Linked DNA regions of Homo sapiens. The protein of the gene in region 1 interacts with the protein of each later gene in a biochemical or structural test. Each region holds a gene or a part of one and is shown on either strand. Other genes may lie near its edges.

Region 1 (8,082 bases):
AGGCATGGTGGCACATCCCTGTAATCCCAGCTACTTGGGAGGCTAAGGCAGGAGAATCACTTGTACCCGGGAGGCAGGGGTTGCAGTGAGCCGAGATCTCACCACTGCACTCCAGCCTGGGCGTCAGAGCAAGACTCTGTCTTCAAAAAGAAAAAAAGAAATAACAAGAGAAGTAGAATTAGAAATAAAGCCTGAATATGTGACTGAATTGTTGCAATCTCAGGATAAAACTCGAATGGATGAGGAGTTGCTTCTTCTTTTTATTCTTTTTTTCTTTATTCTTTTGTTTTGTTTTGTTTTGTTTGAGATGGAGTTTCGCTCTTGTTTCCCAGGCTGGAGTGCAGTAGCGCAATCTCAGCTCACTGCAACGTCCACCTCTTGGGTTCAAGCGATTCTCCTGCCTCAACCTCCCAAGTAGCTGGGATTACAGGCACCCACCACCATGCCTGGCTAATTTTTTGCATTTTAGGTAGAGATGGGGTTTCACCATCTTGGCCAGGCTGGTCTTGAACTTCTGTCCTCGTGATCCATCCACCTCAGCCTCCCAAAGAGCTGGGATTACAGGCGTGAGCCACTGCGCCTGGCCAATTTTTGTATTTTTAGTAGAGACGGGGTTTCCCCATGTTGGCCCAGGCTGACTTTTCTTTTTTTGTTTCTTTAAGGAGTTGCTTCTTATGGCTGAGCAAAGAAAGTGGTTTCTTGAGATGGAATCTACTCCTGTGAAGATGCTATGATCATTGTTGAAATGACAACAAAGGATTTAGAATATTACATAAGCTTAGTTGACAAAGCAGCAGCAGGGTTTGAGAAGATTGACTCCAATTTTGAAAGAAGTTCTGCTGTAGGTAACATGTTACCAAACAGTATCACATGCTACAGAGAAATCTTTCATGGAAGGAAGAGTGGATCCTTGTGGCCAACTTTATTATTGTCTTATTTTAAGAAATTGGCACAGCCGGCTGGGCACCGTGGCTCACACCTATAATCCCAGCACTTTGGGAGGCTGAGGCTGGTGGATCACCTGAGGTCGGGAGTCCAAGACCAGCCTAACAAACATGGAGAAACCCCATCTCTACTAAAAATAAAAAATTAGCCGGGCGTGGTGGTGCTACTCGGGAGGCAGAGGCAGGAGAATTGCTTGCACCTAGGAGACGGAGGTTGCCGTGAGCCGAAATCACACCATTGCACTCCAACCTGGGCAACAAGAAGGACACTTCGTCTCACAAAAAACAAACAAACAAAAAAAAAGTGCTCTAACACAGCCTTGTGCAGTCAAAAGAAGATACTGTGTGACCCTGATAAGCAATTTTTGTTTTTATTTTTATTTTTATTTTTGATTCAGTGGCACAATCTGCAACCTCCATCTCCCAGGTTCAAGCTATTCCCTTGCCTCAGCCTGCCGAGTAGCTGGGATTACAGGCTCTCGCACCACACCCGGCTAATTTTTATGTTTTTGGTAGAGATGGGATTTTACCATGTTGGCCAGCCTCCCAAGTACATGAGATTATAGGTACATGCCACCACACCCTGCTGATTTTTGTAGTTTTTGTGAATACAGGGTTTCTCCATGTTGACCAGGCTGGTCTCGAACTCTTGGGCTCAAGGGATCCTCCCTTTTGGCCTCCCCAGATGCTGGGATTACAGATGTTAGCCACCAAGCCTGGCCAATTTTACCTTTCTGAGCTCAAGTTTTCTCACTTTGTACACGTGGTCAATGAGAGATTTTTATCATCAGTTGGAGGGAAGTGGTGAGATATATACACATGATATCAAGCATACACCAAGTTTGGAGATCAGTGGTAGAAAGAGATAAAAAGAATGTGTTGAAGATGTTGAGGACTGGGTGAGATTACTTTCAGCTGAGCTTTTTGGAGGAGGTGTCATTTAAAGTCTTGCTTCAGGCCACAAACAGGAATGAAGGCATTGAATGATGGATACTATTTCAATGGGTAGAGATTTGCAAGAAGAGTACTGAAAGAAAGATTTGAAGGCCAAACAAGAAACATGGATGTTGCAGGTGGTAAGAATGGGAGGGTAAATTAGGTGCATCTTGGCAAACCTTGAATGTTAAGATAGGAGTTTGATTTTTTTTTTTTTTTTTTTTGAGACAGGGTTTCGCTCTGACACCCAGATCGTGCAGTGGCACGATCTCAGCTCACTGCAACCTCTGCCTCCCGGGTTCAAGCGATTCTCCTGCCTCAGCTTTTCGAGTAGTTGGGACTACAGGCGTGCACCACCACGCTTGGCTAATTTTTGTATATTTAGTAGAGATGGGGTTTCACGATGTTGGCCAGGATGATCTTGAACTCCTGACCTCAGGTGATCTGCCTGCCTTTGCCTCCCAAAGTGCTGGGATCACAGGCGTGAGCCACCATGCCCACCCAAGGAGTTTGATCTTAATTCTGTAGCTGATGAAATACCAGTGAAGCCTTTTGATCTGGACTTTGACATTACATAGTAAATTTTTTTTTTTTTTTGAGACAGAATCTCACTCTGTCACCCAGGCTAGAGTGCAGTGGCACGATCTCGGCTCACTGCAAGCTCTGCCTCCTGGGTTCACGCCATTCTCCTGCCTCAGCCTCCCAAGTAGCTGGGACTACAGGCACCCGCCACCACGCCTGGCTAATTTTTTGTATTTTTAGTAGAGACGGGGTTTCACCATGTTAGCCAGGATGGTCTTGATCTGACCTCGTGATCCGCCCACCTCGGCCTCCCAAAGTGCTGGGATTACAGGCGTGAGCCACCACGCCTGGCCACATAGTAAATTTTTTAAATGAAAGCTGAAGCTGACACAGGGTAGTTTAGAGAGGAAGTTGATGCAAAGGAAGATTCCGTGACCAAGGGCATATGATTGTCAGGACATTTTGCTAGGTGACATAGAGCAGGAGATGGATGTCAAGATGTAGACCCTGCCAGCCAGGCGCGGTGGCTCATGCCTATAATGCCAGCACTTTGGGAGGCTGAGGCGGGCAGAGCACAAGGTCAGGAGTTCGAGACCAGCCTGATCAACATGGTGAAACCCTGTCTCCACTAAAAATACAAAAATTAGCCGGGTGTGGTGGCACTTGCCTGTAATCCCAGCTACTCAGGAGGCTGAGGCAGGAGAATTGCTTGAACCTGGGAGGCAGAGGTTGCAGTGAGCCAAGATCGGGCCACTGCACTCCAGCCTGGGAGACAGAGTGCGACTCTGTTTAAAAAAAAAAAAAAAAAAAAAAAAAAGATGTTGACCCTGCCCTCAAGGAGTTTACAATTAAAAAGATCAGATAAGCCAGACTCAGTGGTGCACACCTGTAACCCCAGTGATTGATTTGGGGGGCTGAGGAGGGAATATCGCTTGAGCCCAGGAATTTGAAGCTGCAGCGTGCTATGATCATGCCACTGTACTCCAGTCTGGGTGACAGAGCTAGACCCCATCTCTAAAAAACAATACTAATAAAAAGAAAAAAGGGTCAGATAAAACATGTACATAGAAAATTACAATACAAGGCAGAATGTGGCTGGACATGGTGGCTCATGCCTATAATCCTAGCACTTTGGGAGGCTGAGGTGAGAGAATCGCTTGAGCTCAGGAGTTTGAGACCAGCCTGGGCAACATATTGAGACCCTGTCTCTATTTACTAAAAAACAAAAAACAAAAACAAAAAAACAGAAAACAAAAAAACAAAAAACAAAAAAAACTAGGTAGAATGTGATACATGTGAAAAGAGATCCAGCTCAAGTGCCTTGGGAGCTCAGGGGAGGGTGAGATTAATCTCTTTTTCCCAAGAATCTGGAGGCAGGAAACCAAGTCGGTTTCATCTTTGGAATTGTAAGCTTAGACTTAGAAGTCTCAGAGGGGGACTTGGGGGTCTTATCCACCCTCACCCCTGGCAGGATTCCCTGTCTAGAATAAACAATAACTTTAAAATGGAAACAAAAAAAGGAGCTCTGAAGGAAAACTGTGAAGGAAGAGGCTCCGTTTGAAATGAATAGAAAATGAATTTAGCTTGGAGGTGCTGAGGTGTTGGTAGAGGCAACTTTCTGGCAAGAGGCGAGTTGAAGGCCAGGAAGTGAATGAGATCAGGGAGAGTGTCTGGAGGGAAGAGGGGCAAAAACAAACTGGGGAAGCACCCACGTTTTAGGAAGTGGGTGGTGAAAGAGGAGTCAGAGAAGGCCAGAGGGAGAGGTGAGCAAAGATCCAGCAGAACACCTTGTTACAAAGTTTCGAGGAGGGTGGGAGGGGTGGAAGCCAGGACGGGTAGCAGAAGGAAGAAAACTTCCAGCAATAGGGATTGAGGTTCCACACGAAGTTACCAATGACATTTCAAGGAATGAAGGCTTTTCCTGAGGCTCCACAAATAAGGTGAATTCCCTGTGTCTCGCATCTTTGGAGCTTCCCCGAGGCCAGGGGGAGCAGGGTTGTGCCCTCTGACCTCTAAATATCTGGGGTTCAGTTCTATAATTAGCAGCACCGGATAGGACGCGAGCCAAACCTCTCTTAACCCTAGCCAGTCCCTCCAGGAACTGAAAAGATGAAGAATTCATTTAGGAGATTTCACACTCGGCTGTTTGGCCTAGCCCAGTGAAGTCCCTTTTCATCACGCAACCCTAATGACTCTTAGGGCTGTCACTGCCGTCTGGTGTTGCCAGGGATCTGACTAAACCGTCTTGCAAAAGTTTGCAGCATTCACCCGAGGCGGACTACAACTCCCAGAATTCCGGGCGCTCCCCGGTGCTGATTGGCGGAGCCCGTGACTCCAGGGGGCGGAGTTTCCCCCGCCTCCCCGGGGAAACAGACCTCTGATTGGCTGGACCGCCGGGCTTTTGTGTCCCCGCCCTCCCCCGGGGACCGCAGCGGGCTGAACTGCTGGTGTCAGAGCCCGGCGAGCGCTGGCAGTTCCGCGGCGGGGATGCTGAGGAGCGCTGGGTCCGGGAGCAGCCCTGGCCCCTGCGGACTTCCGAGGCCGTGAAAACCCCTGCGCTGCGGCCCTTCCCAGGCCCCCGAGGCCGTTCGCCGTTCCCGAAGCCCGACTGGGGGAAGAGTCCAGCACCAAAGCGGCCGTTCTCGGATTCCGGAGCGTTCTGGAGCCCCGAGAGACGCCCCGGGGTTCTAGAAGCTCCCCGGCGGCGCCCAGTCCCGGCTTCATTCGGGCGTCCCTCCGAAACCCACTCGGGTGCACGGGTCGTCGGCGAGCCGCGACCGGGTCCTGGCGCGCACCATGATCGTGGCGGACTCCGAGTGCCGCGCAGAGCTCAAGGACTACCTGCGGTTCGCCCCGGGCGGCGTCGGCGACTCGGGCCCCGGAGAGGTAAGCGGCGGCCGCGCGACGCCCCTCTTCCCTGGAACCCCGAACCGCGTCTGAGCCTCAGGCTGTCCGGAGCTGAGTCGGTGTGTCCTGGGCTCGGGGAGGGAAAGCCGAGCGCGTAACCCGGGACCCGGGTTGCATCAACTGGCAGCCGCGGCCCTCGGCACCCCTCCCCCACTCTGTCTCCCCTCTCCCTCCTTCTCCCCCTCCCTCTCCCCCTCCTCCCTCCCTCTCCCCCTCTCCCTCACCGCCCCACCCCAGGGCCGCGGATCCTTCCTCGGCTCCCTCGGACTCCTGGCCAATGAGGGAGAAGCCTTCTGGAGGCTCTCCGAGCTTTGGGCTCCTGAGCGTCTTCAAGTCCAGGCAAATCCCGGCCGGAGCGGCCAGACCACTCCTCCTCCCCGCCCCCTTCCGCGGAGTCCCTTCCTCTTCGCGGGGGCCGGCGGGCAGAGGACCCTTCCTGGGGTGCCTCCCGGCTCCTGTCCCCCAGCGCGGGGCGTAGGCACCTGGGACTGGCCAGTGAAAGTCGACCTCATCCTATGTCCACCGCACTCCTGCTTTGGAGGGAGAGCGCAGGGGCTCTGGGGGCTTGGCGGGCCGCCCGGTACGCGGCGGCGGCAGCCAAAGCTGGGGGGAGAGGGGACAACCCTGGTCGCGGCTTCCGAAGCCAAGCGCGGGTTAGGCTGCGCCCTGCTAAGTAAGTGGTCTGAAGGCCCAGAAGTTTGTTTTCCAGAAATTCCTCCCCCACCCTCCCTTCGCGCCGCTCCCCTCCACCCCCCCGCATTCGCATCCCGGCATAGCCCGCAGGGGCTTTGCAGGGAGACCGGGAATTAGGCTGGACCTAACCAGACTGACAGTTCGCACTCCCCCACCACTACCAGCAGCAGCGATAATGGACATCTTATCATTTATTATGCACCTACTAGATACCAGGCTCTGAGTTTTTTTCGCCTTTAACCTAAGTCCTCAGGACTAAACCAGCAATACAAGCTACGCTATAGCCCCATTTTACAGGAAGAACATTGAGGCCCACGATGGGCTCAGAAAGAGGCTTTCTTCATTAACCCCACTGAATATCTTGTTCTTTGGCCTTATGATTTCGGAGATTGCACGGCACTAGGAGCTTCTAGTTGCTTTAGTTTACAGGCCTAGAGTGTGGTGGAAGTTGTATTCTGGACCTGGGATTTGGTGGAGTGCTATGACCCCAGGAAAATCCCTGCTTTTCTCTTAGTAACGTGGTTTCTGGGGATCCTACCTCCGTCGGTGTATAGTTTGTGCCCTGGTTTTTGTTAGCTTGCTTACCCTTCTCTGCCGTGATTTAGGAGCGCCATGTGGAGGAATGGCTCTTCTCCTGCAGCTTCTCAGCTGTGTGACTTCTTTGGAAAGATGGAAATAATGTTACTATTGAGAACACCTGAACACTAGAGAGCAAGAGTGCTGGGTTCATGTCCCAGCCCTCCTGCTAACTTGCAGTGTGTGGCTTAGCCAGTAATCACTTCTCTGATCTGTGGTTTCTTCCCATGGGGATTTTACAGTATCTCTAAGGGATTGTTGGGAGAATTAACTCAGAATACAAGCAAAAGCTGAAGCACTGTGACTGGAACATAGTAACTGCGTGATACTTGCTTGCTATTATCAGAACGTGGCCATGGCACGCACAGCTTTCTCCAGAGTGTCTCACAAGGGGGTGCCTGAGCCTGTTCCTGAGATCAGACACTGTACACCCCTCTCTGGGTCAGTGCCTGGTCTAGGGAGAAAAGGCTTTGAGGGAGGGATCTTTACACAGAAGCCATGTTTCCTCAGTGGAGAAAACTGCTGCTATCTGGGAGGTTTCTTTTTCTTATCTTTTTTTTTTTTTTTTTTTGAGATGGAGTCTTGCTCTGTTGCCCAGGCTGGAGTGCAGTGGCACGATCTCAGCTCACTGCAACCTCCATCTCCCAGGTTCAAGCAATTCTCCTGCCTCAGCCTCCCTAGTAGTTGGGATTACAGGCACCCGCCACCATGCCCAGCTAATTTTTGTATTTTCAGTAGAAACAGAGTTTCAGCATGTTGGCCAGGCTGATCTTGAACTCCTAACCTCAGGTGATCCACCTGCCTTGGCCTCCCAAAGTGCTGAGATTACCGGCATGAGCCACCGCACCTGGCCTATCTGGGAGATTTCTGTGTATTCCTCTCTCGAGAAAAGAGGACCTTCGGACGGTTTCTGCTTTGAGTGGTGGCATCCTTAGAAGACAGCAGGGTGCTGATCTTTGAGTCAGGTGCCCGAGGTCCAAGAGAAGACCCAGGCGTGCAGCTCCCTTAACTCCCTGTCACTTCACCACACACTCCCTTTCAGGAGCTCATTGCCTTCAGATGTGTGTATCTTCAGAAAGTTCCAAGGGCTTCACTCTAGTACTGGTAGTATTGGGCTCCCGAATAACTTTCTCGGCCAGATGCAGTGGCTCATGCCTGTAATACTAACACTTTGGGAGGCCGAGGCAGATGGATTGCTTGAGCCCAGGAGTTCAAAACCAGCCTGAAACCCTGTCTCTACAAAATATACAAAAGTTAGCCAGGCGTGGTGGTGTGCGCCAGCTACTTCGAAGGCTGAGGTGGGAGGATTGCTTGAGCCTGGGAGGCGGAGGTTGCAGTGAACTGTGATCATGCCACTGCACTCCAGCCTGGGTGACAGAGCAAGAGTCTGTCTCAAAAAAAAAAAAAAAAAAAAAACCAGGCTGGGCGCGGTGGCTCGCACCTGTAATCCAAGCACTTTGGGAGGCCGAGGTAGGTGGATCACAAGGTCAGGAGATTGAGACCA
Region 2 (6,301 bases), 8.4 Mb from region 1:
GCAATAACAAAGACGGTAACATCCATAAAGATCTAGTTCTACCGTGTGGGACTGTGCAATAGATGGGCAGCTGGCCCCACTGTATGTGGACTGCAGTCCTTGTAACCCCGAGATTTGCTGCTAAGTCAGGGCCTAGTGGCACGGAGTGGGGAACTCCTAGTGAGGATACTGGGAGCAATTCCCAAACCCTGCCCTCTCCACCCCTCCCCATCTCTGCCAGCTAAATGTGGGACTCCCCCTGCAGCTTCAGAAACACCATCCCTTCACACACATTTTGTCTCCCCAACCCTAGGGTCAACTCCATGGGAGACCTAAACAACCAGGACACTTGCCGAGGCTAGGCTGGGCATGAGATGCTCAGTGTTAGAGGAAGCGCAGTGGGACCTCCCCGTGGACTCCAAGCTCCCAGGAGGGAAAATGTGTAACAAAGGGAAATGTGAACCAACTGCTGCCCCAAACCCAAAAAAACAAAGGAAAACAAGAAAACAAAACCAGCTACATAAATTGCAAAAAGAATGGAATTCCAGTTCTATTCTACAATGGCATCAATACTGCAATACTTTCATCAAGTTATATAAAGAAAAACCAAGAACATTGGAATAAGAGGAACAGGAGCTTCCCCCATCTTGTCATGTTCAAGTAGTTTGTGTCTGCTCCCCTAGCCACCAACAGTTTTAGCTATGCTATCCCAAGGGCAAGTGCAAGCCTGTCATCCAAGCGTGTAATTCTTGACCCAGGCTGGCCATCTCGGTTGTGGCTTGCAAGTCCCGCTGGCATGTGATTTCCCAAAGGAGCCAGTCTTAGTCCGTAACCCCTTACCCTGTTCATTGTGGAAGTCCGGGGGCCCAAGGGCAGAAAGGGCTGCAGGGATAGCCTCATCAGAGGGCACTCAGGCAATGGAAGAGATGTGGCTGTGTTTCTGCTCTCTGCAGAAGAGAGTCCTGGAGGAGGGCCAGCAGCTGCCCCGGGTGCTGGGGAGACAGCAGAAGAGGGTGGACATCAGCAGGGCCAGGGCGATGATGAAGGTGAGCACCCATCGTAAGACACCCGGGTAGATGAAGGGCCCGATGAGGATAATGAGCAAGGCCAGCAGGAGTAGGTGCGCGGCCAGGCGCCGGGCTGCCACGTGGTTTGCACTTACTTCATCCTGTCCATCCTCTCCCACCAAGCTGGGGTGTCCTGCTGCCAAGTCAGCAGGATCCACCAGCCCCTGAGGACAGAGCGATACCTCTGTGCATGGCTGGGCCAGCTGCCCCACCACCGCCTCATGGTCGCGCAGGCTGCAGATGAGGCCCCCGGGGACGGCGGTGACCTTGCGGCACAGCGGGCAGGTGATGGACCAGGTGTTGTCCTGCACGCACAGCAGGAGCTTCAGGCAGATGGCGCAGAAGGCATGCTGGCAGGCCAGCAGCTTGGGCAACCGGGGACAGCTGTAGGGCTCCCGGCACACCAGACACTCCAGGTCACATTCTGTGGAGCCAGAATGACCCCCAGCAGGGGCCACAGCGGTGGTGGTTGTGGTGGCTCCTGCGGAGATGGGCTGGGACTGTTGCAGGGTCTTGGTGCAGGCCATTCTGGGCACAGGGACCGGTGGGACACTGTCGCTCAGCACCTGGGCATTGGCAGAGAGTGTCAGCTGGCGCCGCTGGGACTTGGATGGAATCTGCCCCTCCTTTTCACTCTGGCCAGGTGCCTGTTGACAACAGCTGTCTGACACTCCTCTCTCCCAGAGCTGCCCAGCTTGTTTCTTGGCTTACGTCGTCCCTTCAGTTATTATTATTTATTTTCTCAAAACCTAGGGTTAATCAGTAACTTGCGGGTCTGGAGACTTTGAATTGCCTGATAGGAGGGCAAAGTGGGCAAGGGTCTAGTGAATCAGGACTTTCCTGTTGGGGCCAGGTACCTGGTGGGTGCCCACAGAACTGTGGCTCAAGCTTTAGGAGGCAGCAGAATCCAACTCTCTCACCCCCACTTCCCAGGTCCCTGAACCTTTTATTAATTTTTTTTATTTAACTTTTTTTTTTTTTTTTGAGACGGAGTCTCGTTCTCTCAGGTTGGAGTGCAGTGGCCCGATCTTGGCTCACTGGCATCTACAAATCTGCACAATAAACAGACAGCCCTATGAGTCGGACATAGGTGGATTGGTGGACACTGCTTTCTCAGACACAAACTTTTGGATGTCAGGATGAGTGGAAAAAAGTTTGTTTGCACTTGGAGCACATTTACAGGCAGGTGGCCTTGGAAAGAGGAGGGGAGAGGTAAGAAAAGTGAGTGGAAGGAGGACAAAGCCCAACCCAACGCAGAAAAACAAAACCACATACAGCGCACAGGTGTTTGGCACCTGCTACTGTATTCATTTCCTTAGAGCCACAGCTGTTGTATTCACAGTTACGGGTGTATGAACTTCCCATCGGTGCCCTGCTGCACACTTCACATGCCTAATCACAGGTGTCCTGTTTTGTGCTAGGCATGCTGCGTATCCAGTAGTACTAAGAACAGCTGCCATTTATTTGGGCCTACTCTAAGCCAAGCCCTGTGCCCGGGGTCCCCAGCCCCCATTTCCCGGAACCCTGATACAGCCTTGTAGGGAAGGCTGGGAAACAAGGGCAGGGTGTGGTCAGGGTAGGCTGCTGGCTGCCTGCCAAGGGGCCTTCCATGGAGCAGGACCTTGTGGAATCTACCAGCGTCCAAGGTCTGGTTGAATCAATTTCATTGGTTCATTTGGACACAACTGGCCCCAGCCGGGTGGCGTAGGCTAAGAGGACTCATGTGAGACAGGCAGATATTAGTAACACAGCAGTTAGGAAAACGTGATTTCCTTACTTTGCCCTCAAGGGCAAATGGCGGGGTGGCATGTGCACTCCCTCAAACAAATGTTTCATTCAGGCCACTCTGAACTCAGAAGCCCGTGTGAAGGATCCTTTGGTGCTCATGTCACCTGCCAAGGGCCACACAGAGTCCTGTGCCTCTGATTCAGCTCTTTCCCTTACCCCAGTAGCTGGCACTGCAGGCCACCCTCTGTGTCCTGGAGTCACCAGCCCCAAAGGGGCTCCCTCCCTTGTGGGATCGGTAACTCCCACCTCCCCACTCCCCCTGGGCCCTCTATCTCTGAAATCCAATACTCTCACCATCCCATCCCATTTCTTCTCAACCTGTAGCTAGACCATCAGTTACCTCTGTGAAAGGAAAATAAATCGTGGGGCCCCAAAATCACTAAGCCACAAGGGAAAGTCAAGCTGGAAACTGCTTAGGGCCAGCCTGCCTCCCATTCTATTCAAAGTCACCTCTCTGCTCACTGAGACAAATGCATATCTGATTGCCTCCTTTGGAGATGCTAATCAGAAACTCAAAAGAATGTAACCATTCTTATCCACCTGTGACCTGGAAGCCCCTTCCCCACTTCAGGTCTTCCTGCCTTTGCTTCAAGTTGCTCCACCTTTTCAGATGGAACCAATGTTCATTTTACATATGTTGATTGATGTCTCATGTCCCTCTAAAACGTATAAAACCAAGCTGTGCTCTGTCCACCTTGGGCACATGTCATCAGGACCTCCTGAGGCTGTGTCACGGACATGTGTCCTCAACCTTGGCAAAATAAACTTTCTAAATTAACTGAGACCTGTCTCAGATACTAAGGTATAGATACACATCTATATCACGTTTTCCCCCAGATCAAGCTGAAGGTGGCCTTGGATCTAGGCATGTTTTTTCCCCCATGCCTAGCATTCTTTCCCCTTTTTTGGGTAACAGTTCTCTGTTTTCACTTTGGGCAACCACTGCTTCCCACCGTCATTCTGTGCTCACGGAGAGGGTGATGTCTGGCTCCAGCTCTCTGGAAGTGGGGCCCTGATACAATTCAGGACAGGCCAGTTAGCATGCTCTGCTCTGCTAGCTGCAGCCATTGGTTTGAGCGTAGGCATATAATCGAAGCCAAGCCAATGAGATTCAATTCTGAGACTTCTGTTGGAGCCCTTGAGAAGTTTCTCTTTGTGCTGGGTTTCTAAGTTAGAGGATGGAACCCTGGGGCTGCCAGGACCACAGTGTGCAGAGAACCTGCTCAAGAGTAAGGTCAGCACAAAAGAAAAATGAGAAAAGAATCAGACAAAGGCCTGATGATGTTATTTGAACACCTGAAGCAGGACACCTAGCATTGGATTTTTTCAAGGATATTAACCTATAAAATCTACCCTGATTTTTATTCTTAAGTCAGTTCAAATTGAACTTCTGTCCCTTGCAAGTGAAAGACCTCTATGTAACACAGCAATGGATGAAGAAAAGAAGCCTTTACTTGCTCTCTGACAAAGGGTCAGGCATTGATGAGACAACCAGACTTTGTACACGGACAAGAGTGACCGAATGCCTGTGTGTTACCATGCTAGAAGAGATTCTGTGTTTTCTCTGCTTGGACTTGCATTGCATAATGTTATTTTCTGTTTGTGAGACCCTAGGATGGATTAGGGATGAGAGGAGAAAAATGTGTTGAGCCACATTCATTTATAATAAGAATAGAAAATCAGGTGGGCCACACAGTGATGTTGGCTTGGCCAGTGTCCCTCTCACTTTTTTTTGAGATAGAGTCTCGCTCTGTCTTGCCCAGGCTGGAGTGCGACCTCTGCCTCCCGGGCTCAAGCGATTCTCTTGTCTCAGCCTCCTGAGTAGCTGGGACTACAGGCGTGTGCCACCACACCCGGCTAATATTGTATTTTTAGTGGAGATGGGCTTTCACTATGTTGGCCAGATCGGTCTCAAACTCCTGACCTCAGGTGATTCACCTGCCTCAGCCTCCCAAAATGCTAGGATTACAGGCATGAGCCGCTTCACCCAGCCGGCCAGTGCCTCTCTCTCTAGCCAGCTTAATGGGAAATCAAATTGTCAGAAGGTAGCTGAGTGAGGTTGAAATCAGACCAAGGGAAGTTATTTGGGGTTAGAGCCTAAAAAATAACCTTTTAACATCATTGGGCAACCACCGTTAAGAAAACATATTGGCTGGAACAACCCAAGTATTACAGAAATAAAGTAGAATGTGAAAGTTCATCTTACTGCAACCCCTGAGAAATGACCACTGTTAACAGAGCATTCCTTCCTGTTGTCCTCCTCCTACCATCTTGGCTTAGGAACAACTTTGTTTCTCAAAAGTGCCTTGCCTTAACTATCACCAGCACTGACTATAGCTGGAAATCTGGCTCCTGTCACTTTACCAGCTATGTGACCTTGGGCAAGAATTTTAACTTCACTGCAGTTCAGTTTTAAAATTTGATAAAATGGAGGCCGGGCACAGTGACTCAAGCCTGTAATCCCAGCACTTTGGGAAGCAGAGGTGGGTGGATCGCTTGAGCTCAGGAGTTCGAGACCGGCCTGGGCAATGAGGTGCAACCCTATCTCTACTAAAAATACAAAAAATAGCTGGGCCTGGTGGTGCATACCTGTAGCCCCAGCTACTTGGGAGGCCGAGGCAGGAGGATAGCTTGAGCCTGGGAGGTCGCAGTTGCGTGAGCCAAGATCGTGCCACTGCACTCCAGCCTGGGTGACAGAGTGACACTCTGTATTTAAAAAAAAGTAAATAAAATAAAATAAAACAAAATGGAGACGTTAACACTTGAGGAAATTATGGATTATTTAAGCCCTCCACCCCTGACTACAACCTGCTCACAGGAGGCTTAGTAATTTATGTACTTTGGGTTGTAACTGACCTAGGTGAAATTGATCTCTTCCAGGGACATGAGATAAGACACTTTGGTGACTGATTCGGCCAATGCTTCTTGAAGAGGAGTGAATATGGGCAGAGTCTGAGGTGGAGCCTGAAGCAGATCTACCCCAGGGGAATTCAAAAGTGTCTCCGGAGACTTAAAATGTTAAATTCATCTAGGTTTCACATTCTTCTCCATGTTCTATTTGTGCTTACTGCAACATTAGAATCCCGAAGCATGCACGAATCCTTCCAAATCTCCAAATAAAACATATTTGTTTGTTTTAATTGCTGTACAAATATGAACTCATTAATCTTGAGTAAAGCTTTTTTTTCTTTTTTCATTTGAAATGCAGTTTCTTCCATCTTATGGCTTCTCACAGCCCTGGGGTCATACGCACTCCATCGTGAGAAACACAGTCTCATGTTGGGGTGAAATTTCAAGCCTAGCTGCAGGCTGGGGAGCCGGAGCCAGTCCAGTTGAGGAAGATCATGTTGGAAATCACATGTGCAAGGAACCACACACCCATGTACCTTTGCAAAAACATGTCTGATCTGAATTTTAGGCCTCCCGTCAAGTCAGAAAGGAGTCAGGTGGCAGCACTGTTCTGAGAT
Region 3 (7,712 bases), on another chromosome or scaffold:
GGCATTCCTTCCCTGCCCTCCTCGCCCTCTGAGACAGCCACTGTTCTGCCTGGACGTGCACCTGTGACGGGTCTTCATGAGGTGTGCAGGGCAGGCCCATTCACAGGGAGGATGTACTCTGGGTGTTGGGTGTCTGCCAGGGGTCTGGACGGGCAGGGGCCTGAGTTAGAGTGCCTCTAGTGCACTGAGTCCCCAGGACAGGGTACGGCTTCTCTCAAGCCCTGGCAGTCTGGTTGGACTACAGATTCCAGGGCTAGCCAGAAATATGTTTCTCTTTTTCTTTCTTCTTCTTCTTCCTTTTTTTTTTTTTTTTTTTTGAGACAGAGTCTTGCCTTGTTGCCCAGGCTGGAGTGCAGTGGCGTGATGTTAGCTCACTGCAACCTCCACCTCCTGGGTTCAAGTGATTCTCCTGCCTCAGCCTCCCGAGTAGCTGGGACTACAGGCGCCCGCCACCACACCTGGCTAATTTTTGTATTTTTAGTAGAGACGGGGTTTCACCGTGTTATTAGCCAGGCTGGTCTCGAACTGCTGACCTCGTGATCCGCCCACCTTGGCCTCCCAAAGTGCTGGGATTACAGGCATGAGCCACCGTGCCCGGCCCCCATATTTTCTTTTCTTAAACATAATGTGATCTTAAGAGATGCTCTCCTGCCCGGGTCTCCACCTGCAGTTTCCCCTAAGCAGCAGGGGAATCAGCACCATTGAGCAGGGTGTTTTCTGATCTGTGTGCATGGTTAGAAAGTTTATGTGAACGGGTAACAGCGCCCACTCTCTGCAGCCTGTGCACGTCGGGCGTAGTTCGGCTTCACATCAACAGCTGGCTGGAGGTGAGCTTCTGCCTGCCCCACAAGATCCACTATGCGGCCTCCAGTCTGATCCCCCCAGAGGCCATCGAACGGAGCCTGAAAGCCATCCGGTAAGTGCCCAGCCCCACGTGCTCACTCCCTGCCAGGGCCCTTCCCTTTAGCTTCTGCCTGAGATTTTACCACTTACTTTGTTCCAAAATTTCTCTTTTTCTTCTTCCCACTGCGGAAGCTTGCAGGTGGGGCTCTGCCGTTTATAGAAGTTAAAACACATAATTTTGTATCCAGTTGTGTCCAGAAATGACCAATCCCAGGTTTCTCCTGGGCCCTTCTGGCACCACCTTAGGCTTGGGCAGGGCAGCCTGGATGTGGGGCTGAGTGTCCTTGGGGAGGCCGGAGGGCTGGAGGGACTTCATCTTAATGGTGTTGCCCTACCCCAGTCTTTTGCATTTCAGTCAGCACTCATGGGATCTCAGTTATTTTCTTTTTCTTTTTTTTTTCTTTTTCTTTTTTTTTTTTTTTTTTGCGGGGGTGTGTGTGTGTGTGAGAGAGAGACAGAGTTTTGATCTTATCGCCCAGGCTGGATTTCAGTAGTGCGATCCCGGCTCACCACTACGTCCACCTCCCAAGTTCAAGTGATTCTCCTGCCTCAGGCTCCCGAGTAGTTGGGATTACAGGCGCCCACTGCCATGCCTGGCTAATTTTTTTGGTACTTTTAGTAGAGACAGGGTTTCACCATGTTGGCCAGACTGGTCTCGAACTCCTGACCTCAGGTGATCCACTCATCGCTCATCTCAGCCTCCCAAAATATACTTTCTTAATTTAATTGACTTTTTTTTTTTTTTTTTTGAGATGTAGTCTTGCTCGGGGCTCAAGTGCAGTGGCACAGTCTCCACTCAGTGAAGCCTCTGTCTCCCGGGTTCAAGCGATTCTCCTGCCTCAGCCCCCTGAGTAGCTGGGATTATGGGTGCACACCACTACACCTGGCTAATTTTTGTATTTTTAGTAGAGATGGGGTTTCACCATGTTGGCCAGGCTCGTCTTGAACTCCTGACCTCGTGATCCACCCGCCTCGGCCTGCCAAAGTGCTGGGTTACAGGTGTTAGCCACCATGCCCTGGCAATTTAATTGATTTTCTGCAAGGAAAGAACTGAGCCCAGTCTTCTGGCACCACCTGTTCCCAAGTCCCCCAATACCTTGAACATTTTTTAATTATAAAAATATATCTGGGCACATTGCTGAAAATTTGGAAATGACAGAAAGCAAAGCGCTGCCTAGTTCCACCCTCCCCAGTCCGTGCTCTTTGCTTTCAATCCTAGCTAAGCATATTTTAATGTACTTTGGTCCCTAGTCTGTGAGGAGGATTTTGCTTTTCCCATATTTGGGACAATTTCCTTAGGAAAGATTCATTCATGTCTTCAATCAACAGATGTTTGCTGGGCGTCTCTGAGGTGGGATACAGAGTCCAGTCTTCGAGCCTTCCCCACTTTTGTCGTGTTTTTTTCCGAGGGTGACATAATCCTTGCAGGTTTTGTTTTTGTTGTTTTTGAGACAGAGTCTCACTCTGTCGCCAGGCTGGAGTGCAATGGCGCAATCTCGGCTCACTGCAAGCTCCGCCTCCCAGGCTCAAGTGATTCTCCTGCCTCAGCCTGCCGAGTAGCTGGGACCCCAGGTGGGTGCAACCACACCCGGATAATTTTTTTATTTTTAGTAGAGATGGGGTTTCACCATGTTGGCCAGGCTGGCCTCGAACTCCTGACCTCACGTGACCTGCCTGCCTTGGCCTCCCAGAGTGCCGGGATTATAGGCATGAGCCAGTCCTTGGCAGATTTTGTGAAGGCCTCCAAACAGACCACTGCCCTTTTCTCAAATCCCGCTCTTGGCCCTTCTCTCCGCAGTTAAGGGCCAGGAGGCTCCAGCTGCCTGTTTGTGTCCCAGGTGCATACCTGATGCACACCCGGTGCAGGACCTCGTGCAGGACCTGGTGCATACCTGGTGCAGGGTTCCCTGCACTTCGTATGTTCCGTGTGTTTGAGTCCCAGGTGCATACCTGGTGCATACCCGGTGCATACCTGGTGCAGGACCTGGTGCATACCCGGTGCATACCTGGTGCAGGACCTGGTGCATACCCGGTGCAGGGTTCCTGCACTTCGTGTGTTCCGTGACAGGTGATTGTTTTGCAGCCCCTACCATGCCCTGCTGCTGCTCAGTGATGAGAAGTCCTTGCTGGGTGAGCTTCCTATTGACTGCTCCCCTGCCCTAGTGCGGGTGATCAAGACCACATCTGCTGTGAAGAACCTGCAGCAGCTAGCCCAAGATGCGGACCTGGCCTTGCTGCAGGTATAGCTCTGGAGGCCCAGATGGGTGGCATGTGGCGGTGCTGGGGCATCAGGAAAGGCAGGCCGCCTGCCACAGTACATCCACAGGGGCTGTGTCCAGCTGAGAGCCGCGGCACAGCCCACCATGGGGTGGGGCCAGTCCCTGGGATGGCTGGAGGTTTTGGCATCTGAGTCAGACCTGGGTTCAGGGCTGGCTTTGTGAGTGAGCCACGGGACTGACTTGTTCTTCTGTCTCAGAGAGGTAAGGCGAGTCTGTGAGAGAAAGGACTGGGGTGCTTGCAGTCCTGGAGGTTGAGGCACCAGAGCTAGGGGGTGGGCAGGGCAGCAGCGGGCAGGGCCATGGGGGTCTCACAGTGGTGCATGAACAACATACGGGAACTAAGGGCAGGAAGCTTGGATGCGGGGCCCTCCCATGTGCAGAACAGAGACCTAACCTGGTGGCCTTACGCCCCTGTGTGTGCACATGTGTTGGCCTGTGCACTCTGTACAAGATGCCACGTCCTTGCTGAGCCACATGCTTATGGGCCTGTCCATGCAGAGGGCTGCCCTTTCTGATTAGATGGAGGGCCCCTCAGCCTCGTCTGCGGATCTGGTTGGAGTGTGGGAGGAAAAGCGCAGGCAAGGCTGGGCACGGTGGCTCATGCCTGTCATCCTAGCCCAGGACTTTGAGACCAGCCTGAGCAACATGGCAAAACCCCGTCTCTACAAAAAATACAAAAAAAAAAAAAAAAAAAATAGCTGGGTGTGGTGGCGTGCACCTGTAGTCCCAGCTACTTGGGGGTATGAGGTGTGAGGATCAATTGAGCCTGGGAGGCAGAGGTTGCAGTTAGCTGAGATTGTGCCACTGTACTCCAGCCTGGGCGACTCTGTTTCCAAAAAAAAAAAAAGCACGGGGAGAAATCAGAAGCAGGGGCTGCTGATGGGGTGGCCAACAGGCCATGGGATCAGCTGTGGCTGCTAGTCATGTGGGCGTGGCCCAGAGCCACGGGACCATTGAAATACTGCCTGAGGGTGGGAGCAGGTGGTGCCTGTGGGTGGCGCCCTCGTCTGGTGGCGGTGTGCACAGCATGGCCACCAGGGGGCAGCAGAGGCTGCCGAGGAACACAGGCGTGAGGTGGGCCCGCCTGGGTCCCTCTGGCTGAGCTTCCATGCTCTTTTGGCCTGTGAAACAGGTCTCTGCTTAGCACGTTAGGGGAACTTGTCCAACAAGGCCTGACTCTCAGGCCACTTTTCCCCGAAAGCAGCCTTTTTGGATTCTGTCTTTGAGAGTAAGTCTCCCGCCTCTGTATCTCAGGACCCTTTATCTATCCTCTGTGAGAGCACTTACCAAATTGTGCCCTTGTATTTCTTTTTTCTTTTCTGAGACAGGTTCTTGCTCTGTCTCCCAGGCTGGCATGTGGTGGTGCCATCATGATCCACCCAGGCTCAAGCATCCTCCCAAGTAGCTGGGACTACAGGTGTGCGCCTGGCTAATATTTTTTTTTTTTTTTTTTTTTTGGTAGAGACGGGGTTTCCCTATGTTGCCCTGGCTGGCCTCATACTCCTGGGCTCAAGTGATCATCGCACCTTGGCCTCCTAAAGGGCTGGTATTACAGGCATGAGCCACCATGCCCAGCTGTGCCTTTGGACTTCATGGGCTGGACAGGACTCAGTAAACACCATGTCCTGCCCACCTTCATAGCATTCAGGAGACAGAGAATTTTAAAAGAACTCACCACTCCATACAACCCTGCAGAGTGAGGGAGGCAGTGACCCTCCGTGTCCTGATGAGCACCGACCACATGGTAAATGCCTGTGGCTGTTCACTGGTCCTGTGTTGAGCTTTTGAAAGGAGCTGGGCCTGGCTTTCCTGAGGCTGTCTGGCAGGAGTTTGTGCTGGACACTGTGCCTCTCATCCTTGCTGTCAGAGTCTCCTTGGACAAAGCTTTGATGCCCTCTTCTGAGGTTGTCTGGCAGGAGTTTGTGTGGACAGTGTGCCTCTCACCCTTGCTCTCAGAGTCTCCTTGGACAAAGCTTTGGTCTCCTTTTGATGTCCCCTTCACTTCCCTGCCGTGGCCTTGACTGGGGAGAGGGAAGGCTGTTTGTCATTGTTTTCTTCTGTCTGTACCCCTTCCCTGCTGTCCCTGCTGCAGGTCAGCAGGGCGTTGCTGCTGGTGTGGCGGTGCGGAAGCCCCTGGGGCCCAGCCCTGGTGGGTCACTCTGTTTCCGGAGATAGCCCCCTGGGGAGCACCTGCCTCAGGTGTGAATGTCACCAGATAGTTTAAAGTCCCTCATGTGGCTGGGTGCAGTGGCTCATGCCTGTAATCCCAGCACTTTGGGAGGATGAGGCAGGAGGATTGCCTAAGCCCAGGAGGTCACGACCAGCCTAGGCAACATAGGAAGACCCTGTCTTTACAGAAAATTAAATAATTAGCTGGGCATGGTGGTGTGTGCCCATGGTCCCAGCTACTCAGGAGGCTGAGGTGGGAGGATCACTTGAGCCCTGGTGTTCGAGGCTGCAGTGAATTGTGATTTTACACACTGCAGTCTGGGCAACAGAGCAAGACCCAGTCTCAAAAAATAAAATAAAATAAAATTCTTCATGTTTATATCAATCCAGAGAGAATCTACAAGTAAATTTTGGGTGTGTCATGATAAAATTAGTATGTTACAAGACTTCAAACACTACACAAATTATAGACACAGAAAGTTCCCACAGTCCCATATCCCACAGGTAACCTAGATCCCTCCAGGTTTTTTATCTGTATATATACATTTTATTGTGTGTGTGTGTGTGTGTGTGTGTGTGTGTGTGTATATATATATATATATATATATATACACACACAAACATTTTATTTTGTATTATGAAAATTAGGATCGTGCTGTATATTCGTTGTGATTGGCTGAATAATGGCCCCCACAGATATACACATCCTAATCCCCAAAATCTATGAATGTGAACTCATGTGGGACTTTGGAGATGTTACTAAGTAGAAGATCTTGAGATGGGAAGATCATCCTGTTGAGCTCTAAATGTAATCTCTAAGGCCCTTATCAGAGGGAGGCAGAGGAAGATCTGATAAAAAGAGGCAGCGATGTGGCCACAGAGACAGAGTGGAGTGACGTGACCGCAAGCCAAGAGACACTGGCCGTTGAAGAGGCAGGACGAATTCTCTTCTGGAGCTTCCAGAGGGAGCCTGGTCCTGCTGGCACCTTATGCTTGCCCTTAAGTACTGATTTTGGATTTTCAATTTCCAGAATGGACAGCATCTTGGAGAGGCTGCTGCAGGGAGAGGCAGGAGGTGGAGACCACTATGCTGAGCAGAGCTGGGGGAAAGTGGGGGTGTCTTTTTGAGAGAGACATGCGAGTGGCACGTGGGGTGAGGGAACAGGGCGGTGATGGAGCTGAAACCTGCCATGTCGGGGTTGGCGGAGCCATTGGGGGCACTACTCGCACAATCTTGGCTCACTGCAACCCCCACCTCCCAGGTGCAAGCAATCCTCCTGTCTCAGCCTCCAAGTAGCTGGGACTACAGGCATGTGCCGCAGTGCCTGGCTAATTAAATAAAAATTTTTGGCAGAGATGAGGGTCTCACTATATTGCCCAGGTTGGTCTCGAACTCCGAGGTTCAGGCGATCCTCCTGCCTTGCCCTCCCAAAATGCTGGGACTACAGGCATGAGCCACTCACTCAGTCTGGAGGCCCTGTTTTCTGAGCTGAGGTATAAGTGTCCTCAGCAGCAGGGCAGCACGGTGTCCAGGCAGGGGTGACTCACCTCCACAGAGGCCTACCCGCCAAGAGGGTGGAGTGGTGTCCTGGGCTGATGCAGAGGCAGAAGTGCGAGAGCTTAGGATTTCACACACCTTTTCGTGAAGTGCTGGGGTGCTGTGCTCTCAGACCTCAGGCCTGAGCTTTCCTCTGGAAGGGGTTTGGGTTGTGTTTGTGTTTCCTGATGTTCAAGGGTCCACAAGAGCAAAGCTGGGAGGGGGGTCTCTGTGGGAGTCGGGGCACATGGGGCAGACCTGGGGCCTTTGGGTATGTAGGGGTGGCATGCTGAGTGACTCCACACCCATCATCGGGCAAGGCCATGCTGGAGTTTTAGGGGGTATAAGAGGGCTGTGCCCCTGCCAGGACATCCAGCTAAGCCCCCTGCCCAGCTGGGCCAGCACTGTGTTCCCAGCACCCCAGACATTCCCATGCTTGTGGCCTGAGACCACCATTCTTCAGTGGGAGTCAAGACAGCATAGGATGGGAAAACAGTGCCACCAAACAGCACAGGGAGCAGTGACAAAAAGGCCATTGTGGCCGGGTGCGGTGGCTCATGCCTGTAATCCCAGCACTTTGGAAGGCCAAGGTGGGTGGATCACGAGGTCAGATCGAGACCATCCTGGCCAACATGGTGAAACCCTGTCTCTACTAAAAATACAAAAATTAGCTGGGCGTGGTGGCATGTGCCTGTAATCCCAGCTACTCAGGAGGCTGAGGCAGGAGAATCGCTTGAACCTGGGAGGCAAGAGGTTGCAGTGAGCTGAGATTGTGCCACTGCACTCCAGCCTGGGCGACAGAGCAAGACTGTCTCCAAAAAAAA
Region 4 (8,504 bases), on another chromosome or scaffold:
ACTGAAACATTTCTTTCTATTGACTTCAAGTCTTTAGACACAGTTGAACTCTTTTAACCAATTGCCAATCAGAAAATCTTAGACTCCACCTAAGACCTGTAACCACCCCCTCCAAGGTATCTTGCTTCTTTAGGCTGAATCAATGTATACCTTCCATGTATTGACTTATGATTTTACCTAAAATTCCTGTCTCCCTAAAATGTACAAAACCAATGTATACCCTGACCGCCTTGGGCACACTTTCTCAGGATCTCTTGAGACTGTCCCCCAGGCCATGGTCACTCATATGGCACGCATATGGGCTCAGAATAAACCTCTTTAAATATTTTACAGAGCAGTAATTTGGGAGGCTAAGGTGAGTGGATCACTTGAGCTCAGTAGTTTGAGACCAGCCTGGGCAACACGGCCAAACCCCATCTCTATAAAAAATACAAAAATTAGCCAGGTGTGGTGGTATGCACCTGTGGTCCCAGCTACTTGAGAGGCTGAGGTGGGAGGATTGCTTAAGCCTGGGAAGTTGAGGCTGCAGTAAACCGAGATGGCACCATTGCCACTGCACTCCAGCCTGAGTCTGGAAATATAGTCTCCAAATACATACAAAAAGTCTCCAAAATACATACAAAAAGTTTGATTTTGATTTTGTTTGATTTTTTTGGTCAACATGGAAAGAACACTTACATGGGGATCTCAGGGGTGAATAGCAATGAAGAAGCAGCCAGAGAGCTCTGGATGTTGCTCCAGAGTCCCCACTCTTTCTCTCTCTCCTTCCTTCCTTCCTTTCTTTCTCTTCCTTCCTTCCTTTCTTCTTTTCTTTCCTTTCTTTTTTTTTTTTTTTTTTTTTTTTTCTGAGACGGAGTCTTGCTCCGTTGCCTGGGCTGGAGTGCAGTGACTTGATCTTGGCTCACTGCAACCTCTGCCTCCCGGGTTCAAGCGATTCTCCTGCCTCAGCCTCCGGAGTAGTTGGGATTACAGGGCACCTGCCCCCACACCTGGCTATTTTTGTATTTTTAGTAGAGATGGGGTTTCTCCATGTTGGCCAGGCTGGTCTCAAACTCCTGACCTCAGGTAATCCGCCCGCCTTGGCCTCCTAAAGTGTTGGGATTACAGGCGTGAGCCACTGCACCTGGCAGAGTCCCCACTACTTCATGACAGTGTCATGACATATGGGTGGGAGACTCCAAAGCAGGATCCGAGGAGGCAATTGGAAAGGTTCTCCTGCTCCCTCTCCCCAAAATTCTGCTGAACCTTTTTCCTACTTAAGAAAAAAAAAACATTGGGAGAACAGAGTGCACCAAGGACTTGAAAGCCAAAGTACTATCTTTGCCTATGAACCATGACAGGCAGATTTTGAGAACTAGATAAATATGAACTAAAGAGGTGGGAGTGGGGGAGGGTTGCAGAAATGCTCAGGCACGATGATCTTAGATCCCACTCATTTTGGTGGGAAGCAAATTAACAAGCTATGTACACAAAGACAGAGAGCTTTAGAAGAGCTATGTCTCTATTTGTATGTATGTCCAAAGTAAAACTCAAACGCCTAAGCAGGGCTTTCTTTTTTTTTTTTTGAGACAGATTCTCACTCTGTTGCCCAGGCTGGAGAGCAGTGACCCTATCTCCGCTCACTGCAAACTCCGTCTCCCGGGTTCAAGCGATTCTCCCGGCCTCAGCCTCCTGAGTAGCTGGGATTACAGGCGCCTGCCACCATGCCTGGCTAATTTTTTAATTTTTTAATTTTATGTATGTATGTATTTATTTTTTTTTGAGACGGAGTTTCTCTGTGTCGCCCAGGCTGGAGTGCAGTGGTGCCATCTCGGCTCACTGCAAGCTCCGCCTCCTGGGTTCACGCCATTCTCCTGCCTCAGCCTCCCTAGTAGCTGGGACTACAGGCGCCCGCCACCACGCCCGGCTAATTTTTTGTATTTTTAGTAGAGACGGGGTTTCACCATGTTAGCCAGGATGGTCTTGATCTCCTGACCTCGTGATCCGCCCTCCTTGGCCTCCCAAAGTGCTGGATTACAGGCGTGAGCCACCGCACCTGGCCTACGGTGGGTTTCTAAAGAAAAAGAAGGGGCAGTTCCTAAAGTCTTTACTAAGAATTTACCTCAAAATAACATAAGCTACTGATTGGCTATACGTTGTTCTTTGTATCACAAATTCGAGAAACATGAAGATAATGGATGAGGTAGCCAGTCAGGAATGAAATGACTTTAATTTTAATTTTTTTTTAGAGACAGGGTTTTGTTCTGTCACCCAGGCTGGAGCACAGTGGCGCGATCATAGCTTTTTGCAGCCTCAACCTCCCAGACTCAAGCAGTCCTCTCACCTCACCTTCCCATGTAGTTGGGACTACAGATGCATGCCACCACGCCTGGCTAATTTTAATTTTTTTTTTTTTAGAGATGGGGTCTTGCCATGTTGTCCAGGCTGGTCTCGAACTCCTGGACTTAAATGATTCTGTCAAATAACAGGTGTGAGCAAACACGTCCAGCCTTTGCTCACACTCTTAATGGTGAAGTGTTTTTTTTTTTTTCATAGTGTACTGTATCAATATCTTAACATTATACTGAAAAGCTCAGATGTCGGGCCGGATGCAGTGGCTCACGCCTGTAATCCCAGCACTTTGGGAGGCCGAGGTGGGCAGATCACGAGGTCAGGAGATCAAGACCATCCTGGCTAACACGGTAAAACCCCATCTCTACTAAAAATACAAAAAATTAGCCGGATGTGGCAGCGTGCGCCTGTAGTCCCAGCTACTTGGGAGCTGAGGCAGGAGAATGGCGTGAACCCGGGAGGCGGATCTTGCAGTGATCCACCCACCACTGCACTCCAGCCTGGGCGACAGAAGGAGACTCCGTCTCAAAACAAAACAAAACAAAACAAAACAAAACAAAACAAAGCTCAGATGTCATATTCTTCAAGATTTCAAGATGCCATTTCGGGTCGCCTATTTAGGCTTTTCTCTCCTGCCATATTGCTTGCAAATCTATTATAATATACAAGTCATTCTGCCAAGCACATTCCTGTTGTAGAGTAACCAGTTGTCCCAGTTTGCCTGGAACTTATGGGTTTCTTGGGATGCAAGACTTTTTGGTGATGCAGTGCTAGAATATGAAAAGGGATCAGGCATGGTGGCTCACACCTATGGTCCCAGCTAATCCAGAGGCTGAGGCCGGAGGATCACTTGCTTGAAGCCACTACTTTGAAACCACCCTGGGCAACACAACGAGACCATCTCTACAAAAAGTAAAAAAAAAAAAAAAAAAAAATAGCTGGGCATAGTAGCACATGCCTGTAGTCCCAGTTACTTGGGAGGCTGAGGCAGGAGGATTGCTTGGGCCCAGGAGTTGGAGGCTGTGGTGAGCTATGCTCACACCACTGCACTCCAGCCTCAGTGACAGAACGAGACCCTTTCTCCAAAAAAATAAAAATAAAACATGAAACGGTCCAGGCAACAAGTTAGTCACCGTAATCTGTCAACAAGTCTGTCTTCCCCCTTATAGCCAATACTCCAGGAGGGAAGAGACCACACTTTCTTACCTCTATTCATACAATGACTTGCACATACAAATAGTGATAATATTAACAACAACAATAACAGTTTATTTTATTTTATTTTTATTGATTTCCTGGCTTCTAGAACTGAATTAATAGTTTATAGTTGAGCTTTTCTACATCCCAGGCCCTGTGCTTAGTTCCTTACAACAATCCAATGAGGTAAGCCATTTTTCCCTTCTATAGGGAAACTGAAGCTAAACCAGTTAAATCAACATTTAAGAGTGTGGGACTGAAAAGGAAACTTAATCACCACCCACCATGTTAGTACAGTGGTTCTCAAACTTTTTGATCTTGGAATCCCTTTACACTGCTGTTAAAAATTACTGAAAATCCCAAAAAAACTTTTTTTTTTTTTTTGACAAGGTCTTGCTCTGTCGCCCAGGCTGGAGTACAGTAATGTGATCCTAGCTTACTGCAGCCTCCTTCTGGGCTCAAGCCATCCGTCCACGTCAGCCTCCCAAAGTGCTGGGATTACAGGCATGAGCCACTGCGTCCGGCCCCCAAAAACTTTTATATGTAGTATACAGAATTTAAAAAATATATTCATTATTTCATTTAAACATTAAGGCCCTTCACATGAATACATTTTAAAATGAAAAAGAACAATATTTTCAAAAAAAAAAAAAAACAACAAAAAATTCTGGCAAATCTGTTTTAATGTTTGGTTTATCAGAAAACAGCGGCCGGGCGCGGTGGCTCACGCCTGTAATCCCAGCACTTTGGGAGGCCGAGACGGGCAGATCACGAGGTCAGAAGATCGAGACCATCCTGGCTAAAACGGTGAAACCCCGTCTCTACTAAAAATACAAAAAAATTAGCCGGGCGTAGTGGCGGGCGCCTGTAGTCCCAGCTACTCCGGAGGCTGAGTCAAGAGAATGGCGTGAAGCCAGGAGGCGGATCTTGCAGTGAGCCGAGATCGCGCCACTGCACTCCAGCCTGGGCGACTGAGCAAGACTCTGTCTCAAAAAAAAAAAAAAAAAAAAAAAAAGAAAAGGAAAGAAAGCAGCTGGATTGCAGGAGGGGGTATAGCTCACAGGTAGAGCATTGGACTACAGATCAAGAAAACAGCTGGATTCTCACATTTAAGTCTACCTTCATTGTTACGGGAGGCGCTGCTGTATTGTATGAAACAATAAATTGCACATTCAGACTTTTAAATATCTCGATGGGATAGGCATCAGGAGAAGAGGTATCTTCGGTTTGCACGAGCTTTGATTTTTCTTTTTTCTTTTTTTTTCCGAGACGGAGTCTCGCTCTTGTCACCCAGGCTGGAGTATAATGGCGTGATCTCGGCTCACTGCAATCTCCGCCTCCCGGGTTCAAGCGATTCTCCTGCCCCAGCCTCCCAAGTAGCTGGGATTACAGGCGCCCGCCACCCGGCTAATTTTTGTATTTTTAGTAGAGACGGGGTTTCACTATGTTGTTTAGGCTGGTCTCGAACTCCTGACTTCGGCCTCCCAAAGCGCTAGGATTACAGGCGTGAGTCACCGCACCCGCCCCGAACGTTGATTTTGATTTGAGACTGGGTCTGGACGAATGCTGGGGACTCCAGCGAGGAGCTAGTCAGGACAACAGGCACCTCACCTCACCCAAACCCAAACCTGCGAGCCCTTCCCAGGTCACCCACGCTTGCTCGAGCTTGGACTACAACTCCCGGCAGAGCTCGCGGCAGGGGGTGTGCCCGCAATCGCGAGGAGCGTGGGTGACTCAAACCAAGTGACGGAAGTGAGCGAGGGCGTGCCTGTTTGTTGCAGGCGCGGTGTAGCAATTGGAGGACCCAGGAAGAAGGGGCGGAGCCTATGCTTGGGTCAACCAATGGCTTGAGCTCAGGAGCAACCAGGGCACGGGGCGTGTCGGGGCTGATTCTCTGGCTGTGTGGGGCGCACGGTCCCGGGATACTGGGGACGGCGGGGTGGGAGGGCGCCGTCCTGGGGCCGCGGCGGCCGGGCGGGGGAGATGGCGGCGCGATGGAGCAGCGAAAACGTGGTTGTAGAGTTCCGTGACTCCCAGGTGAGCTAGAGGCCGAGTGGAGCCCTCTGGGCATGCGTCCTCCCCGCTTCCCCTCCCCCACGCGGCTGCTTCCGTCCCGGGGGGCTACGGGGAGACCCTAGGCCCCGTACTGAGGAGGTGGGCGGGGCTTAGCCGACCTCTTAGGCCCCGTCGGGGGAGGGAAGACGACCATCGGGGGCAATCGGGGCGAGCATGGACGGAGTTTCGGGGCTCCCTACGCGGGTAGGGGAGTGGGGTCCGCCTTGTGACACTGAGGCAGAGACTGCGCATCGTGAGTGCTGAGGGGAGGCTTCCCACAATCAGGGTACGGAGCGAGGGCGTGACGGCTTCCCGAGGCCCTAGCCGCGTGTGGCGACTTAAGGCAAGTCGCGGGACTTTTCTAAGTCTCAGCTGCGTGGACGTAACCCTGTTGGGGTGAATTCGATGAAACACTGTTTGCAAAGTGCCTGTTGCAGCGTCTACGCGGTTAAGTGGTTCTTAATGCCATCATACTGGAAAATACCGTGTAGTGGATAGGAGTGACACTGCACGTGTTGCCCGAGTTCGAATCCCGCAGCCCCTACCCTGTCATCACTCCGTACACGTCAGTTTTCTCACCTGTAGAAGGGAGATGGTCGTACTTACAAGATTGGCTTAAAGATTTTATTTTTTAATTTTCTATTTAATTTAATTTAATTTATTTTTTTTGAGATGGAGAGTCACTCTGTTGCCCAGGCTGGAGTGCAGTGGTGCCATCTTGGCTCACTGCAACCTCCGCCTCCGGGATTCAAGCAATTCTCCTGCCTCAGCCTCCCAAGTAGCTGGGATTACAGGTGCGCACCACCACGCCCGGCTAATTTTTGTATTTTTAGTAGAGACGGGGTTTCACCTTGTTGGTCAGGCTGGTCTTGAACTCCTGACCTCAGGTGATCCACCCACCTCAGCCTCCCAAAGTGCTGGGATTACAGGCGTGGGCCACCGTGCCTGGCCTATTTTACTTCATTTGAGACAGGGTCTGGCTCTGTCACCCAGGCTTGAGTGCAGAGGCGTGAATCACCGCTCAGTTCAGCTTCGACCTCCTGGGCTCAAGCTATCCTCCCACCTCAGCCTCCCCAGTAGCTGAGACTACAGGCGCATGCCAACACGCCCGACTAAATTTTTCATTTTTTTTTGTAGAGACGGGGTCTCCCTATGTTGTCCAGGCTGGTATGGAACTCCTGGGCTCAAGCGAACCCCCTGCCTCAGCGTCCCAAAGTGTTGGGATTACAGGTGTGATTCACTGAGCACAGCCTCGAGTGAAGATTTTATGTGGTTGTATGTTGAGGATGTGTGGCACACACAGCATTGGGATTTGGATGCTGGATCCTACCCCAGAGCCCTTGTTTAGCTCATTGGACTACTTTACTCATAGTGGGTAGCTCTGAACCGGTCATATACATCCCCTCTTCCCCAGCACCTAGGACAGTGTCTTGGTGATTCTCTTCAATTTTAAATTTATTTACCTTTTTTTTTGAGACAGAGTCTCACTCTATGACCCAGACTGTAGTGTAGTGGCATGATCTTGGTTCACTGCAACCTCTGCCTCCCAGGTTCAAACGATTCTTGTGCCTCAGCCTCCCGAGTAGCTGGGATTACAGGCACGTGCCACCATGCCTGGCTAAGTTTTGTATTTTTTGTAGAGACGGGGTTTCGCTCTGTTGGCCAGGCTGGTCTTGAACTCCTGGCCTCAAGTGATCCATCTGCCTTGGCCTCCTAAAGTGCTGGGATTACAGGTGTGAGCCACTACACCTGGCCTATTATTTTTTGTAGAGACAGAGTCTCTTTGTGTTGCCCAGGCTGGTCTTGAACCCCTGGCCTCAGGCGATTCTCCCACTTTGGCCTCCCAAAATATTGGGATTACAGGTGTGAGCGACTGTGCCTGGCCATTCTTTTCATTTATTCAACTAATATTTATCAAATACCTTCTGTGTGCCACACTTTTATTCACTCATTTATTCAACAAGGATTTACTGAGCTCCCTTCAGGTATACACTATACCATGCACAGGTGATTCATACTGAGGGAGATCTGGATAAGTATGAATGGGTGATGTGGTTTCTTCTTTCCAAAACCCCATCCTGTCTTTTGCCGGAGAATGAGTGAGTGGAGGAGCTACCCACCATTTTGCTCTGTGGTGCCCTCTGATCAGTAGCCTCTACTGAGAATTTGAGCAGTAGCATTTGGATTAAGGACCCCCAAGTACTGTCAGCACAGAGTCTCCGTGAGACCTGCTCTCCCTAGGGAGGCGCCAGACTCCTTGGAAAAGGAACCATATTCCTGTTTTCTTTCTTGTTAATTGCTTTTACTGGCAACTAGGACAGAATAGAATCATGTATCATGCCTCTAAGCCTGCTAATTTGGAAGCTACTAATCTGCAAACCCTTTAATTTTCACAGAAACCCAGGTAGTCTCACCCCTGCCTGTTTATAGAGATGTAATTGAAGAGACCTGCAGAGAGGGTGCTGACACATATATTAGGATGCTATGAAGTCGTAGCAAATAATTAAACCTCAACAGCAGTTGTCACAGTAAGAGAACAAAGTAAATTGGGTAATTTTACTGCCTTGTGGGAGTTTCTGTTTTTTTGTTCTGATTTTCCTATTTACAAGGCTTCCTCTTTATGTGAATTAGCATGGTTTTGTGGGTGATTCTGGTGATGATTGGAAGGGGCAGGAACCCATTTTATTAACTATTTTGTTAATGTAGAAAGACAAAGTTAAAACTCTTCATAATGCCTTTATGAATAGGAGCAATAAACTTTTCAAAACACTCCACATCTTTTAAATAATAATTTTATTAAAAAATTTTTAATTAAAATATTTAAATTTCTTTCATTTTGCATTTTTTTTTTAAATAGGGATAGGAGTCTCTGTATCTTGCCCAGGTGGTCTTGAACTCCGAGGTTCAAGTGATTTTCCTGC

The links.
Region 2: the proteins of SESN2 (region 1) and RNF186 form a complex in vitro, tested with the Homo sapiens proteins (one study listed by BioGRID).
Region 3: the proteins of SESN2 (region 1) and NPRL3 form a complex in vitro, tested with the Homo sapiens proteins (one study listed by BioGRID).
Region 4: the proteins of SESN2 (region 1) and WDR59 form a complex in vitro, tested with the Homo sapiens proteins (one study listed by BioGRID).

The regions. Positions count from the first base shown.
Region 1 is NC_000001.11:28,254,650-28,262,731, forward strand, and holds the start of SESN2 (sestrin-2), read left to right. Parts: upstream 1-4,868; 5' UTR 4,869-5,198; coding exon 5,199-5,288; intron 5,289-8,082. UniProt on the Homo sapiens protein: Functions as an intracellular leucine sensor that negatively regulates the mTORC1 signaling pathway through the GATOR complex. In absence of leucine, binds the GATOR subcomplex GATOR2 and prevents mTORC1 signaling.
Region 2 is NC_000001.11:19,813,529-19,819,829, forward strand, and holds RNF186 (E3 ubiquitin-protein ligase RNF186), read right to left. Parts: upstream 1,756-6,301; 5' UTR 1,574-1,755; coding exon 890-1,573; 3' UTR 501-889; downstream 1-500. UniProt on the Homo sapiens protein: E3 ubiquitin protein ligase that is part of an apoptotic signaling pathway activated by endoplasmic reticulum stress.
Region 3 is NC_000016.10:93,576-101,287, reverse strand, and holds part of NPRL3 (GATOR1 complex protein NPRL3), read left to right. Parts: intron 1-778; coding exon 779-916; intron 917-2,986; coding exon 2,987-3,143; intron 3,144-7,712. UniProt on the Homo sapiens protein: As a component of the GATOR1 complex functions as an inhibitor of the amino acid-sensing branch of the mTORC1 pathway.
Region 4 is NC_000016.10:74,982,025-74,990,528, reverse strand, and holds the start of WDR59 (GATOR2 complex protein WDR59), read left to right. Parts: upstream 1-5,405; 5' UTR 5,406-5,511; coding exon 5,512-5,565; intron 5,566-8,504. UniProt on the Homo sapiens protein: As a component of the GATOR2 complex, functions as an activator of the amino acid-sensing branch of the mTORC1 signaling pathway. The GATOR2 complex indirectly activates mTORC1 through the inhibition of the GATOR1 subcomplex.